Regions from separate parts of the Homo sapiens genome. Here region 1 is linked to region 2. Evidence: fine-mapped expression QTL. Tissue or cell type: blood mononuclear cells. Region 2 holds a variant in brackets; the other region holds the start of a gene. All regions are shown on one strand. Distances are between the middles of the regions.

Region 1 (8,173 bases), 340 kb after region 2:
TTTTTCCTAGAATTCACCACGTTCATACCCTTTGTAAATATTTTCTAACCTTTCAAGCTCTACTGATAAAGTGTAATATATACTTAATAAAAAACTGATGATGAAATAAGTGAACAAATCTTTTTAAGGTGACAAACTCAGGGAGAAGCAGTACTACCTGGAACACAGACACATCCGACTCAAGCGTCAAGTCAGGCTATCCTATAATTTGGGACATTCTCCCACCCCTCATTCTGCTCACTGAAGTGCTCACTGACCATTCTGTCTGGAGACACTGCACTGTGCCTCACGGTGTGCCCCAGGGATGTTTTGCTTTGCATGTTCTCGCACCAGCTCACTGGAGTAGTTATTGCTTGTCCTTTGGACTAGTTTTTCTCCCTTCACAAGTCTGAGAATCCAGAGGGCAGGAATTATTTCTGTCTTTTCCCAACACCACTGATGTGTCTCCAGGCAATGAAATTGGGGGTTGGGGGAGAATGTCTAAGGGGTTAGCTTTTTAGGTGAAGGGTGTACCAGAAGACTTCTCTCAGCCCCAGGACATCCAGCTGCTTCACTGAGAGGCTCCATCTCCATGCCATAGGCTGTCCTCTGGGAGGAAAAAACCCAGGAACCAAAATTCACTAGATACTCCAAGAGACATAGCCACTGTGGGCATCTTGGGCCATTCCCAGACAATTCTGAAATTCAGGACTAGGATAAGAGTGGCTGAGGAGCCGGGCGCGGTGGCTCACGCCTGTAATCCCAGCACTTTGGGAGGCTGAGGTGGGCGGATCACGAGGTCAGGAGATCAAGACCATCCTGGCCAACACGGTGAAACCCCGTCTCTACTAAAAATACAAAAAAATTAGCTAGCCGGGCATGGTGGCGGGCTCCTGCAGTCCCAGCTACTCGGGAGGCTGAGGCAGAATGGCGTGAACACGGGAGGCGGAGCTTGCAGTGAGCCAAGATCAGGCCACTGCGCTCCAGCCTGGGCGACAGAGCGAGACTCCGTCTCAAAAAATAAATAAAAATAAAAAAGAGTGGCTGAGGATACAACCAGCTGTAAAGTTTCCAAAGTTTTCAAAGATTTTGTACAAGGCGTCTGTGCCTAGGAAAGATAAAAAGCAGAGTGGCACAAATATTTCTTTACAATAGAGTGCCAAGAGGTTATTCTCTGCCTTCACAAACAGATAACAAATCTTTAAAGAGTTCCACAAACATGGGTAACTAGCGAAACCCAATCTCTACAAAAAAATAAAATAAAAAGAATTAGCTGGGCATGGCAGCACACACATTTAAGCCTAGCCACTCAGGAGGCTGAGGCAGAAAAATCACTTGAGTCCAGGAGTTGGAGGCTTCAGTGAGCTATGACAATGTCACTGCATTCCAGCAGCCTGGATGACAGAGCAAGATCCTCTTAAAAACAACAAGTCAGGCGTGGTGGCTCGCCCCTGTAATCCCAACGCTTTGGGAGGGAGAGGCGGGTAGATCACGAGGTCAAGAGATCAAGACAATCCTGGCCAACATGGTGAAACCCCGTCTCTACTATAAATACAAAAATTAGCCAGGTGTAGTGGCGCACGCCTGTAGTCCCAGCTACTTGGGATGCTGAGGCAGGAGAATCGCTTGAACCCAGGAGGCGGAGGCTGCAGTGAGCCGAGATCACGCCACTGCACTCCAGCCTGGCAACAGAGCGAGACTCCAACTCAACCAAAAAAAAAAAAAAAAAAAAAAAAAAGCCGGGTAGGGAAAAAACAACAGGCCAGGCGTGGTGGCTCACGCCTGTAATCCCAGCACTTTGGGAGGCCAAGGCGGGGGATCACGAGGTCAGGAGTTGGAGACCAGCCTGACCAACATGGTGAAACTAAAATACAAAATACTAAAAATACAAAAATTAGCCGGGGGTGGTGGCGCGGGTCTGTAATCCCAGCTACTCAGGAGGCTGAGGCAGGAGAATCGCTTGAACCCGGGAGGCAGAGGTTGCAGTGAGCCAAGATCGCGCCACTGCACTACAGCCTGGGCTACAGAGCGAGACTCCTTCTTAAAGAAAAAACAAAAACAAACAAAACAACAACAGCAACAACAAAGAGTGCCCTCCAATGTTCTGTGAAAAAATGATTAATTAAAATATTGTGCCTGGAGTACGCAATAAAAGACAAATAGCTGACAGTGTTGTGAACTGAAGAGGTGATGGTGGTTTTTATGAATTTTGGAAAGAAACTGAAAATTTAGTATTTTATTGCAGGCCAGAGTCAGGCTGGGAGAACAGAGGAGTGGATTTAAGACCCTGCTTTCCATGTTATTTGGAAAATGCAGGGGAAAAGCAGTCTCTTGTGCAGTGTTAAAATAATTAGCAGGCAATTAGACTGAGGTGGCTCTAGTGTCTTGCGTTTCTACATGAAAAAGAATATTAATAGCTCAAATGCATTTCTTGTTAATGACTGCCTTAAGTAGAAACAAAATCCAAGTTCAACCAATCACAAAACTCCAATTAATCAGTAATTAAATAACCAGGAAATTTCCACCTGGACAGTCCAAATAAGGTGACTGTAACTGTCGTCAATTATTAAATTTGGCTTGCTTCCTCATGCACCTTACAAAAAAGTTTTTCCTTCAAGCACCTCCTCCATAAACCCACAAGCCACACACCATAGCTGGGCGCTCTCCCATTCATGAAACTCCCTTTCCTCAAACTCTTCAAAGCTTTAAAAGTGACTCCATTTTTCACAGGAAAAAGGATGGACTGCACAGCTAAGATAAGCCCCATGGAACAGCTCTTCCCACGCATGTTTCGCACACCGATTTGGCTTCTCCCCGATGACCCTCCCCTCTGGACAAAGCACACAGTCTGGGGGACCCGCGGGGCTGCGGCTTCATAGCCGCCCAGAGAGGCCGGGGCGGAAGCCGCGGCGCAGTGATGGGAGGAGAATCCCGCGGCGGCCTGGCCCCGCCCCTACCCAGAGGTGACAGATCCCACAGGTGCCAGCCGGGACTCCGGGCCGCGGACTCTAGTGCTGACGCCGGGAGGCCGGACCGCCATCTTGGAACACCCTCCCGGGAACTCTCACCGTTTTCCGGCTTTCGGGGTGTCCTGGCATCTTAGCTATGTAACTCCCAGTACCTGCAGGTCACAGGGAAACCAGACACTGCAGCAGCAGAGTCACCAGGGCCTCCCGCAGCTGGGGATAAATAGCCGAGAATACGGGACCAAAGCTCCAGCTGGAGCACAAGACAAAGGCCCCGCCAGATCCCGGAAACCCCCTCCGCCTCTCAAGCTGCGCTCCTGATTGGACAGTTCCCACGTCAATGTCCCTGATTGGACAGGGCTCCAGGACCCGCCTCCTTTGGTTATGAGTGACAGGAGATGAGGTCAGCAAAGGGGTTGAATGAGACTATTAACAAAATGGGCAATTTTTTTTGTATCCTTCCAAAATTGTTCCATGTCTTTCCATGCATACCATCTTTAATAAAGGGCGCACTCTTAAGCCAATCTGCAATCTCTGTTCCTGAGTGTCTAAACAACGTCATCATCATCTTCTGTTGGAGAAAAACCTGAAGATGAGTTTTCCTCCCAAAGCACAGAACAGTCAGAAGCCGAGGCGTGCTTGGGAATGCTGGCGGGTGGAAAGGGGAGGCGCATTCCGGTGCGCCTGTGGAACTGTCCTTGCAAGCAGGACCCAGGTCCAGAACAGCTATGCAATGCATGTGTTTCTGACCAAAGGGGGCCTGCTGTCCACCCGCCTCTTCTGCTGGGCAGGGCAGCGCATGGTTGGGGTATTTACACCCAGGCAGGTGTCCCAGGCCAGTCCCCTGTCAACCCATCATAATAAAAAAGTCAGAATCTATTTTCAAAAGTATATTCAAAAGCATATGTTTAGGATACCTACCTGAGAGCATAGACTAAAGTTGCCCTGATTATACATTCCAACTAGTAACCATTACAAGTGGGTTTTAAGAAAAGAGGCAGTTCCTAAAATTTTCATCAAAAATTTACATTAAAATCCAGAAGTCACTGACTGGCTATACATTGTTCTTTGTATCACAAATTCCAGATGAGACAGCTAGTTAGGAACAACATACCTTTAAACAATTGCCCCTGGGAAAGGGTGTGGAGATGTGTCTCAAATCCCATACTCAAGTCTCTCTGGGCCAGAAAAATCTTCCGTACCTCACAGAGCTTCAGCTACTTAGAGCTATTCTTTTCTTATCTCCATAGTCAGTACACTTGGACCCTTAACAAGAAATAAGTTCAAACAGAAAATTTGCCAAGCCACAGGAATAATGGCCTGTCAGTGCCCTTCAGGAAGCTGATTGTCACTTTCCTTCAACACCCTTTCCACAGCTTCCCCCCAACACACACACCCTGGATCCCGGGAGAGAGGGGCTGAGACGCACCCAGACACACCTCGCTGCCCCTCCTGCAAACATACACCCACACACAGACACACAGACAAAGACACAGACACAGGCAGCTTGAAGGAGAGCAAGAGAGAGGGATGGAGACATAGAAACGGAGGGAGAGAAAGACAGTGATAGAGAGGCAGAGTGAGTCAGGATTGAGAGAGAGAGAGAGAGAGAGAAGGCTACAGAAAGAGCACGAGGTGGAGGGGGAAGAAGAAGAGAGAGGATGAGGGACTTACAGAGCCATAGAGCCTTGGAGAGGGAGTGTTCTGCTCCGGTAGACAGGGCCCCTTTGAGCAGGACAGGGTAGGGTGGAGGGTGCTTGGGCTGGGCCAGAACAGGGTGGAAGGGCTAACGGAGTGACCCAACAGAGCCCTGAGACGTATTTTTTGTTGGATTGGTTGCTTTGGTGGTGCGTTTCATAGGACTTTTCCTTTGTTGGCTCCTCCCTGTCCTCTTGGTGCGGTGGGCCCCGAGATTTGTAGAGTGCAACCGTCCCTCTAGCGAGAGCTGTGGCACCGAGCATGCCCACGGGGCAGAGGCCTGGGTCTGTCTCGTGTCCTCCGGAATGGAGTTTATACGAAGTTGGTGGCAATGGGATTCCGAGTGCACAGGGACGGTTTTCCTGGTGGCTGGAGAAGGCAATGTCCTTCCCCTGGGGAAAGTAGCCCATGCGTTCTGGAGCGGAGGTCTTGGCTGGTGTCTTGTGGGGCCCGCTTCCCCTGCCCGCCCCTTCCCCCGGCTTGGACAGTGCCAGCGGCGCTGGATGAGTGAATTAAATTCCCTGGGCGTCCCGGGAGAGGGAAGACACCCTGGACGGCAGGGAACCCGCCCCTGAGCCTTCGAGGTTGGCCCCGGCCCGGCCCTCCCCGCCCCGCCCCGGGCAGCGAGCTGGGCTACTGATGGGGTGGCTGCCAGGCGGAAGAGCTGGGAAGCTGCTAACTGGCGGTGCTGCAGTGGCGGACGCCCCACGAGGAGGTCCCAGGGTACCGCGAGGGCGCAGGCGGGCGGAAAAGGAGGAGCAGAGTCAGGGTGCGGTTGGGAGGCATCGCGATAAAAGGAGGAAAGTGGGAGGGACCGGGAAACCAAAAAGCCTACAGCACCCGTTATTCCCAGGCGGTCTCCCAGTTAAGTACTAACCAGGCCTGACCCTACTTAGCCTCGAGAGATCAGACGAGATTGGACGCGTTCAGGGTGGTATGGCCATAGACGCCTGGCAGCCCTAAGAGCTCCGCTCAGTCTTGCGCGCCCGACTCCAGGCATCCCGGCAACCCCGGGTCCACGGGGCTCGGATCAAGTACCCCTGAGCTGCTCGCCGGCGGCCGGGCTGGTCTGCTCTCCCCCTCTACCGGCCGCTCTCCCCCTCTACGCCCGAGCACCGTCCACCGCGCGCTGCGCCTTCCGCTGGCCTCCCAGAGCCTCCCGCAGTAGCTGGTGGCCAGGCCAAGCGTGGGACAGCCACAGCGCCGCCCTGCTGCCGGGCGTGGGCGCCAGAGGCCTCTGTCTCCTGCACAGGCTTCGGGCTCTCGAGGTGGCCTCCCTTCCGCCGAAGCTCCAGGCCTTTCCCCAGCTCCCGAGCTCCCGAGCTTCCACTACATCGGGCCCGCTCAGGACCGGGTGTGCTCCGAGACGTCAGGGCCCAGGGCCCACGGTCCTGGTATCCCCGCCGGTCTTCTGTCTTAGCAGTGAGGGATTGTTTTGGATCCCTCTGCAAGGTCCCCTCTTGCCCCACCCACCCAGAGCCTCTAGGGCTGGCCAAGGGCGATCAGCCGACCCAGTCCTGCGGGCCCTCTTTCTCAAAACGCCTTCAACCCTGTCCCCTGTCCCGACGAGGACCCAGCCCGTGGGCAACAAGGGGGCCGGGTGGGTTCTGCTTTGCCCCGCGCTGGCACCAAAGCCGGCAGCCTGATCCTGGGAGAGAGGGGCTGAGGCACACCCAGACACAACTCACGACCACCATGAGCAAAACCACCCATTCACACAGGGGCGCAAGCTTGCGGCCACACACACACACACACACACACACAGCTTGAAGGAGAGCAAGAGCAAGAGGGATGGAGAGATAGAAACGGAGGGAGAGAGAGACAGCGATAGAGAAACATAGTGAGGGAAGAGAGAAAGACAGAGAGAGAGAAGGCGACAGAAAGAGCGCAAGGTGGAGGGGGAAAAAGAGAAAGAGAGAGGGTGAGGGAACTAGAGAGCGAAAGCGATAGAGCCCTGGAGAGAGAGCGCTCTCCAAGCCATAGAGAGAGAGACAGGGTGAGGGAGGAGAGAGAGAAAGAGAGAGAGAGAGAGAAAAGGCGACAAAAAAAGCGCGAGGTGGAGGGGAAGAAGAGAAAGAGAGGGTGAGAGACCTAGAGAGCGAGAGCAATAGAGCTTTGGAGAGGGAGCGCTCTGCTCTGGTAGATAGGGCCCCTTTGAGCAGGCCTGGGTAGGTGGAGGGTGCTTGGGCTGGGCCAGAACAGGCTTTGGGCTCTCCAGGCAGCCTCCCTTCCGCTGAAGCTCCAGGCCTTCCCCCGGCTCCCGAGCTCCCGAAACCACATCGGGCCCGCTCAGGACGGGGTGTGCTCCGAGGCGTCAGGGCCCAGGGCCCACGGTCCTGGGTCCTGGGATCCCCTCTGGTCGTCCGCCTTAGCGCTGAGGGATTGTTTTGGATCCCTCGCTGCCCCTCCTGCAAGGCCCCCTCTTGCCCCACCCAATCAGAGCCGCCAGGGCTGCCCAAGGGCGATAAGCCGACCCAGCCCCGCGGGCCCTCTTTCTCACAAAGCCTTCACCACCGTTGCCTTTCCCGAGGAGGACCCTGCCTGTGGGCAACAAGGGGTCCGGCGGAGGGGCACTGTTTGCCCCGCGCTGGCACCAAAGCCGGCAGTCTGATCCCGTGAGACAGGGGGTGAGGCCCACCCAGGCACAACTAATGACCACCACGAGCTAAACCACCGCACCCCCCCCCCCCACAAAGGGTGCACGCGCGTGGGCAAACACACACACAGACACACAGACAAAGACACATACAGAGACAGCTTGAAGGAGAGCAAAGAATGAGAGATGGAGAGATAGAAACGGCGGAAGAGAGAGACAGCAGTAGAGAGAGAGGCAGGGTGAGGGTGAAGACAGAAGGGTGAGAGAGAGAGAGAGAGAGAAAAGGTGACAGAAAGAGCGCGAGGTAAAGGGGGAAGAAGAGAAAGAGAGAGGGTGAGGAACCTAGAAAGCGAGAGCCATAGAGCCTTGGAGAGGAAGCGTTCTGCTCCAGTACACAGGGCCCCTTTGAGCAGGCTGGGGTAGGGTGGAGGGTGCTTGAGCTGAGCCAGAACAGGGCGGCAGGGCCGCCCACGAGGGTGGGCCAATGGAGCCCTGAAACGTGTTTTTTCTTGGATTGGTTGGTTGCGTTGGAGGTGTGTTTCGTAGGGTTTTCCCTTAATTTGCTCCTTCCTGTCCACTTGTTGCGGTGGGCCCCGAGATTTGTAGACTGCCCCAGTCTGTCTGGCGAGAGCCCTGACGCCGAGAGTGCCCATGGGGCCTGAGGCCTGGGTCTCTCTTGTGTCCTTGGGACTGGAGTTTACATGAAGTTGTTGGCAATGGGATTCCGGGTGTACAGTTACGGTTTTCCTGGTGACTGGCGAAGGCAATGTCCTTCCCCCCGGGAAAGCAGCCCGCTGCCCCTGCCCGCCCCTTCCCCCAGCTTGGACGGTGGAGGCAGCGCCGGATGAGTGAATTGAATTACCTGGAGGTTCCGGGAGCGGAAACCTCTCAGGACTGCAGGGAACCCGCCCCTGCGTCTTTGAGGTCAGGCCCT
Region 2 (8,173 bases):
CAGGGATCCTAGGAGGAGGGGCCTGGGTGCCCTGGCAGTTTCGAGCCTAGGAGGGAGCAGAGCCCAGGAGGAGCACTGAGGTTCCCAGGTACACAGAGACTGGAGCCAGGGCGCTTTTGGAGTGACCCTGAGGGGTGCCCAGGCCCCTAGACTAGTTCCTGCAGCCTTGTGTGTGAAGATGACGGGGCTTTGTGGGCCTCTCACCCCATGTTGAGTGGTCCAGGAGCTACCAGGGACTGTGCCCCACTCCTGGGCCTCTGGCTGCGGTCCCCACAGAAGGGCTGGCTGTGGGCACTGTGCCTGAGGCTCACAGCAGGAAGGGTGGCTGCCCACCCGGCCGGACAGGGGCATCTGCAGAGCCACCCACCATGAACAGCACCTCCAGGCTTAGGGGACAATGACCCTCCCCAGTCCAGGGCTGGGGCCGTGTGAGAGCTGCCCTCTTATTCCCCTGATGGAATGCGAGGGCCAGATGCTCTTGGGAGCTCAGGCACAGACAGGAGCCACAGCGAACCTTCCAGGGAACATGCCCGCCACCCGGGATCCCATGGAGATGTTGCCCTCAGCTGGTGCCCACTGACCCCAGGAGATCGCCTCGTTGACACCCGGCTAACCTCCTGCTGCCCTGGCTCCCGCTGCCCCCAGCCAAGGGTGACTGGCCGAGTGCCAAGCCCCAGTGGCATGGTGGGGATGCACACCCCCGCCCCGTCTGCACCCAGAGCACAAAGTCCCCTTGGCAGACCCAGGGCAGGGCTGGGGGTCCCACGAGGCCTGCCTGGTCAGGGAGGGCCCAACTGCCTTGTCCCCATGACAGGCTGGGAAAGACTGCAGCTGGGAGCCGGGATGTCACAGGGCTACATGGCCTTGGCAGAGGGTTCATGAACAGCTGGGTCTAGACTGGAGCTCGGCTGGGCATGCTCTAGCAGGAATGGGGAATGGCCCGCCTGGCCCGCTGTGCGCTTCTGGCCACCCCTCCACCTGACATGCCCAGGTCACAGCCCAGAGAGGACCAGGGCAGAGCCAAGGTTGGGTTCAACTAGGTCTCTGGGAGCTGCCAGCCCTGTGATCACAGCTGTGTCTCCAGAACCAAGGTAGGGCTACATCCTTCAGACCCCAGGGTGAGGCTGTGTACCCCAGGCCCCTGAGCGGGCCCACATCCCCCAGACCCCAGGGTAGGGTCACGTCCCCCAGACCCCAGGGCGGGGCCATGTCCCCCAGATCCCAGGGTAAGGCTGTGTACCCCAGGCCTCCGGGCGGGGCCACATCCCCCAGACCCCAAGGCAGGGCTGTGTCCCCCAGACCTCAGAGTGGGGCCACATCCCCTGAGCCATGTCCCCCAGACCCGAGGGTGAAGCTGTGTCCCCCAGACCCCAGGGGGGCCACATCCCTAAGACCCCAGGGCAGTGCCATGTCCCCCAGACCCCAGGGTAGGGCCACATTTCCCAGACCCTAGGGTAGGGTCACATCCCCCGGACCACAGGGTAGGGCCATGTCCCCCAGACCCCAGAGTGAGGCTGTGTCCCTCAGACCCCAGGGTGGGGCCACATCCCTAAGACCCCAGGGTGGTGCCACTTCCCCCAGACCCGAGGGTAGGGCCGTGTTTCCAAGACCCCAGGGTGGGGCTGCATCCCCCACACCCCAGGCAGGCGTGGCCTCCTCTCCTGCCATGAGGTGTTGGCTTCCTTTCCACCTGGAGGCCTTTGGGCAAGGGGTGCCCTGTGGTGCCCGTGGGGCTGCACCTTCTTGGCTGAGGGGTCTGGCTGTGTGGGAGGAGGGGCGCCCGTCTCCAGCCACCATCCGGGGCCTGGCTAGTCTGTGAACGGCCCAGGTGGGGCTCCAGAGCCAGCTGTGTGTGGGGTAGGTCTGTGAGGTGGTCAGGGTCCCACCCTGGGGTTTGCAGTGCCTAGTGCCTGGCTGGGAGCAGAGGCCAGGCCCTGGCTCTAGATTCTCTTAGGCTCGAATTTCAAGGGCTGCGGGAAGGACAGGTCTTCCTTGGAGCTGTAGGATGTGGGGATATGCCAGTTGCCCAGTCCCCCCACTGCCCCACACTGTCTCGGGTCTCCTTAGAGCCCCCAGCCTCAGCCTAGGGTTTGGGGAGCCCCTCCTTGCTCACGATCAGGCATCCCCGCCCCACTGGTGCCCACAGTGGGACTGGAGGAGAGGATGGCAGGAGCACTGAGGCAGCCCAGGCATGGGGGTCTGGCGGCGCCACAGGACAGGCCAGGCTGGCGTGTCCTGGGTTCCCGAGCCCTGCCTGGCCCCTGGTACCCTGGTCTCGGCTTGGGGAGCAGTTGCTCTTTCAGGTTGGGTGTTCCAGGCAATGTGAAGCCGCCTCCCTCCCTGGTCAGCCCCACCCCCTGCTGTCTTGAGAGTTCCAGGATGGAGCCGTCTGCCCACTGTCCTGGCCTGTACATGTGGCTCTGGGCCCCCAGCCTCTGGACGGCAGGAGGTTGTTATCCCAGACCGATGACTCTTTTCCTCAATGCACGGGTAGGGAGACAAAGGCCCAGGAGGCCGGGGCCAGCAGGAGAGGCCCCTCCCCACGGCTGACTAGGCTCAACCAGGCCACACCACCCGCAGGACCTCCCCAGGCCACCAGGGAGACCCAGCAACACACACAGAGACACACACACACACACACACACACACACACACACTCACAGACAGTGAGTAAGACAGAGACAGACACAAAGTCAGAAAGACAGAGACAGACAGAGAGAGAATGAAACAAAGAGAGGCAGAGGTAGAGACAGACACACAGACATAGAGAGACAGAGACCTGCCTGGCCTGGCCTGGCCATCAGGGGTCAGGGTAAGCCATCCCTCTTCCCCTAGGAGCAGCCTCAGATCAGGGGTTTCTTCCCACCTGGAGTCTCCTCTCCCATCCCTGGGGATGCTGGAGATGGGAAGTGGGCTCAGCCTGGGGGGCGGGGGGTGGAGCTGTGCCCTCGCAGGAGCCCATCCTGGGGCTCTGTCATGGGCACCCCCACCCTCCTCCCGAGCTTCTCCACCGTGAGGCTTGTCCCCATTGTCTTGTCCCTACCCACCTTCTCCCTACTACCTGGACCTAGGGCTGGACTTCAGTTTCCTCGGGCGGTCACCTGCCCCAAGTCTGCCCCTCCATCTGTTCCCCTGACAATGTTCCGACCCCTGAGGCCAGTGTCCCTGCCTTGCCTATGGCCCACATGCTGTCCAGGCCCAGGAACTCTGCCTGGACCCTCCTGGCCTTCTCACGTGCAGGTGGAACTCCCATCACAAATGACTCAAGTGTGCCACCTCCTCCTCCAGGCAGCTTCCCGGGATTGCCTGCCCAGGCCTAGGTGCCACTCTCAGAGACAACGTGTCTATCCTGGGCCAGGTGCCTTCAAGGATGATGCCCATGGGAGAGGGGCTTTTTGAGGCCCGGTGGGCTGCCTGGAAGGTCCCAGTGCCTGTCCCCAGCAGGGGCTTGGTGTGGACAGGAGGCCTGATGTACCCTGGGTACAGCCAAGGAGGAGGCCAGACAGCCCCACAGACTGCTTGGTCTAGCACGGTCGCTGGGACAGGGGAGGAGGGGTACTCATGGAAATGCTGCTGAATTCATGACGTCAAGCTCCACTGGATCAGGGCTGGAGGGCTGGCCAAGGGCTTGGGAGAGGCTGGGTCTGGTCCAGGCTCCCTAGGAAGGGGAGCTCTGCAGGGGGAGGTATCGCAGCATCCTTGACTCCCAGGGCCAGTCCCCGATGGACCTTTTGGGCCGGGGAGGTAACCAGGAGGGCTGGTGGGGCGGGGGGGTCTCTGCTGGGGTCTGTGGGCTCCAAGGTCACTAGGAGATCCCTCCCGATGGACCCTGAGCTTCTATCAATTCAAAGGCCCAAAAGAAAAGGCTGGGGCCCTCCTACTCCCAGTTACCCAGCCCTAAAGACCAGCCAGGTTCTTGTGCAATTGGGAATCTTTTACACAAGAATGAGCCTACATGGCGGGAAAAGCAAACAGTTGGCACAACATAACTGCACAGACCCAATGGGCACCATGCCTGATACTCTTCTGAGAATGTCCAATTCCTGACTGCCAGAGGCTGTTGACAAGCCTGGAACTGGGCCAAGAAATTGAAAGTTACAGCCCCAAAGGCAGGAGCACAGGACACGGACAGGACAGGACCTGGAAGGGACACGTGGCCCAGGTCCCTGCATTGATATGGGAGTGCTGTGGAGAGACAGGACGTGGAGGGGACATGTGGCCCAGGTCCCCCCATGGACACGGGAATGCCATGGAGGGACGGGATGTGGAGGAGACGTGTGGCCCAGGTCCCCCTGTGGACATGGGAATGCTGTGGAAGGACGGGATGTGGAGAGGACATGTGGCCCAGGTCCCGCCATGGACACGGGAATGTCGTGGAGGGATGGGACGTGGAGGGGACGCATGGCCCAGGTCCCCCTGTAGACATAGGAATGCTGTGGAGGGATGGGATGTGGAGGGGATGTGTGGCCCACTTCCCCCCCCCCTCCCCGTGGACATGGGGACACTGTAGAAAGACAGAACA[C/T]TGAGGGGACATGTGGCCCAGGTCACCTCAAGGACATGGGGACCCTGTGGAGACGGGACACTGATATTGTCTGTCCCTATGTGTCTATCTCACTGTCCTGTCTCTCCTGCTTCCATGGCCACCAGCCTCTGTGGGCTGACACTGAGGGAGGGACACTGAGCATGGCTCCTGTGGGTCTGTGGGCCTGTGCTCTGGTCTGGCCGCACGCTGTTGGTGGGCTGTGGCACTAGGCTGGTGCCCTGCCTGCAGTCTGTTGTGACTGTGACGGAGTCATGTGTTTCAAGGCCATTTTCAGGTGGGAGGCGTTCCGGGGTCTGGTCCCAGCATGGTGGGGCATAGGCCAGTGACCTAGGGCTGTGGGGAGGCTGTGGAAGTTGGGGAAGTGCGTGGAAAAGAGGTTCAGGCTGGGCCGTCTGGCGGAGTTGTACCCCGGAGGGGCTTCTCTCCGTCCCACAGCCAAGGTGGGTGCGTGGGCCCTGCAGCTTCAGAGAGTTTTCCTTGCACGAGTTCCTGTGGGACTGCAGGCCGCCTGCGCCCCGCCTCCTACCCCTGGCCCAAGCACATTCTCCGCCCTGGATGAAGGAACTTCCAACAGCAGAGCAGCATGGGACGCCCCTGCACCCACCACTGCCCTCACACAGCCAGAGGAAAACAGCTGAACATAGACACTAGCGGGAGGGACATGCCGGGAGACAGACAGAGACAGGGAGAGGAAGAGATAGGGAGAGGAAAGGAGAGAGACGGAGAAAGATGGAGGGAGACAGAGAGAGAGAGATTGAGAGACAGAGGGGAAGATAGAGACAGAGGGGGGAAGCAGAGAGACAGAGACAGAGGGAGACAGAGAGTGGCAGAGAGGTAAGACAGAGAGACAGAAACAGAGAGACAGACTGAAAGAGAGAGCCGCAAAGCAGACTGGGGGCTGCCGAGCCTGGCGTGAGCACCTGCACCTGCCACTTTGCAAGGGAAGAAGAGGGGACAGAGGGCAGGGGTGCCTAGGACGTGACTTTGGGGAGGGCAGGGGTGAACCAGTGGCATCTAGGGGAGGGCCTGTCACCCAGGGGCTGGCGGGGGGTAGCTCTCCCGAGGGCAGCAGAAGGTCCTCAGCCTGGCCCAGTGCCCTGCACTTCTGCCCTGTGCCCCCTGTCTGGCCCCCTGTGTCAGCGGCCAGGCAGGGTGGGTACAGCCTGTGACCCTGCTGTCATACGCCTGTTGGAGCTACCCCATCCCTTCCTCTCATCCTGGTCCCTCCCCCTGCTCTGGCCACTCCCCTGTGGTTCTCTGAGACCCCCCTCTCCGGCTCTCCCACCTGCACCCCCTGGCCCACTGTCACTTGACCTATGTTAGCTGTGAGAGGTGGCCTGTGTGCCTAAGCCTGCGCTTGAGTGTGCTGCATGAGAACGTGTGTGTGCAGGAGCACCTGTGTCAGGAGACAGAAGCACTTACCTGGGGACTGAAATATCTGAAGGGACTGGGAGGTGCAGAGGGTGGGGCTGGCAAGGACAGTGGGGTCTGCAGAGCTGGGACAAGGATGGGCTTCTGTGCCCAGCCTCCCGAGCCAAGCTTGGAGCTTTGTGGTGTCCCCCATGGTAGAAACCAGTCCCATCAACTTCCCAGGATTCATCCACCCACCTCCCACTATGACCCCCACCCCACCCACACCACCTGCCTGACTCGCCAGGCAGCCGTCCAGGGATCCACTCCTTCCTCTGCCTCTGTCCACCTGTCCATCCTCTCGTTGCGTGTGTCTGCCTAGGGGCCTGGGCCTTGTTCACTGTGGGCCCCAGGAAGCTGTCAGTGCGTGGGCTGCCCACAGGCAGGGCGTCCTCTGCCATGGGATTCTCAGTGGTCTCATGTGAGGTTTCAAGGTTCTGTGTGTGACTTCCTGGTCTGTGTGTGGCTGTGTGACTGTGTGTGTGTCCGTCCGTGTGTGCCAAGTGTGCACCACCCCACGTATGCTTCATAGAAATTCCAAAGGAGGGCAATGGGGTGGGGAAACTGAGGCACCTTTTTTTTTTTTTTTTTTTTTTACAATGTGTGAGATCCCTGGGCCGGTGGTGGTCAGCTCTCTTACCTCCTGCCACCCACCTCAGAGTCGAGAGGTGAGGGAGGAGACCCATGGGTGTACATGGGGGCTATGGCTGAAGGAGGCAGGTGGGACCCTCCTAGTGCTGGCTGGGGGACTGGGCCACAGGCAGGGGCCTTGAATCACTGGGAGGATGAGACCCTGGGGATACTCCTCAGAAAAGGAAACGGGGGCTTGAGCTGGGCCCTGGCCTGTTAGCACCGCTGACCCTGGTGGTCAGATATCTGCTGAAGGGACAAATGCATTCACTCCTCACTGGCCGGGTGCCATTCGTTTGTTCATTCATTCAGCCATTCACTCATTTTCTCCTTAGTTCATTTATCAATTCATTTGTTCCTTTGTTCAATCATATGTTCATTCATTTATTAATTTGTCCAGTAAATCATTAGTTCATTCATGCATTTGTTTGATTAATCACTAGTTCATTCATTCATTCATTCATTCATTCCTTTGTTCAATCATTTGTTCACTCATTGATTCCTTTGTTCATTCATCCAATCAGTTCAGTCACTTGTTTGTGCATTTATCCATTCATTTCTTTGTTCATTTGTCCAATCATTAGTTTATTCATTCATTAATTTGTTGAGTAAATCATTAGTTCATTCACTCATTTGTTTGATTAATCACTAGTTCATTTATTCACTCATTTGTTCAGTTAATCATTAATTTATTCATTCATTTGTTTGGTCAATCATTCGTTCATTCATCCATGCATTCTCTAGACAACCATGAGGCTGGCTGAGCCAGGCAACGGGGCTCTATCCCTGGAAACAGCCAGGTCCAGAGCCATTCAGCCTGGAGGGAGGAGACAGCCCTGTTTCCACCTCAGGCCCATCACCAGCCAGGAGCCGGTGGCCACCATCTTGGGCAGAGCTGACTTGTGGGATGGTGACCCCAGAGCCATGGGCTGTCCCTGGAGGTGGGAGCTCCCCATTGCTGGGGAGGCTACAAGAATGTCCTGTGGGTGTCAGCTGGATACAGAGTACTGGGCCTGAGCCCCATACCCCAATCCAGCTGTGGCCTGCACCAAGGGCTGAGAGCCAGTCTCAGGGCCCCTCCTCTTTGTCCTGTCTCCCTGCTCTCATCCCCACACTGCAGAACCCAGGAAATAGAGATTTCCCGCAGTGTGGCAGATGGTTTGCAGCCTGTATGTGAGGGGCTGGCAGCTCATCTCCCGGATAAGGACACTGAGGCTGTGAGGGGTGAGGGAGGACCCATGGGGCAGGGGAGGAGCTGGAGGGGACAAGTGGGACTCAGTCACCCACGTGGTCTCCCCTGGAGGAAGCGGGGGCCCAAGCCCAGTGCTGGGGGACTCTGGGTGGGGCTGTGGCCCTGTCCACCAGCCTGGCTCCCATGTTTGAGTGGCCTGGGCCTCCGAGGCTGCCCCCAAAGTCTTATGAGGGACCCTGACCCTTAGTGGTCCCCAGCAGGCCTGCTCCCAAACACAGGGCTTCTGCCTCTTGAAGCCTCCATGCACTGGGATGCCTGGGGACAGGAGCTGAGATACTGGGCAGGGGCTCTGTGTGTCCCTGTGGGCTGTTGCGAAGCCTGGCAGGTACGGGGGTGTG

The links. PIP is the estimated chance that this variant, and not a neighbour inherited with it, causes the effect.
Region 1: ZNF678 starts here. The variant in region 2 is fine-mapped to the expression of ZNF678 in blood mononuclear cells (TOPMed, PIP 0.93).

Annotation. Positions count from the first base shown.
Region 1 is chr1:227,558,599-227,566,771 of GRCh38, reverse strand. It overlaps ZNF678 (zinc finger protein 678), which reads right to left and starts at 3,216. Exons shown (of 4, transcript NM_001367909.1): 1 at 3,048-3,216. It also overlaps the pseudogene RNA5SP77. RefSeq lists enhancers at 2,981-3,260, 7,516-7,575, 7,606-7,915.
Region 2 is chr1:227,896,815-227,904,987 of GRCh38, reverse strand. No RefSeq gene overlaps it. Among named protein-coding and RNA genes, the nearest start is that of MIR5008, 41 kb to the left of the region's middle. RefSeq lists enhancers at 2,703-3,703, 4,937-5,437. The variant C/T (reference allele first, on the strand shown) is at 4,523.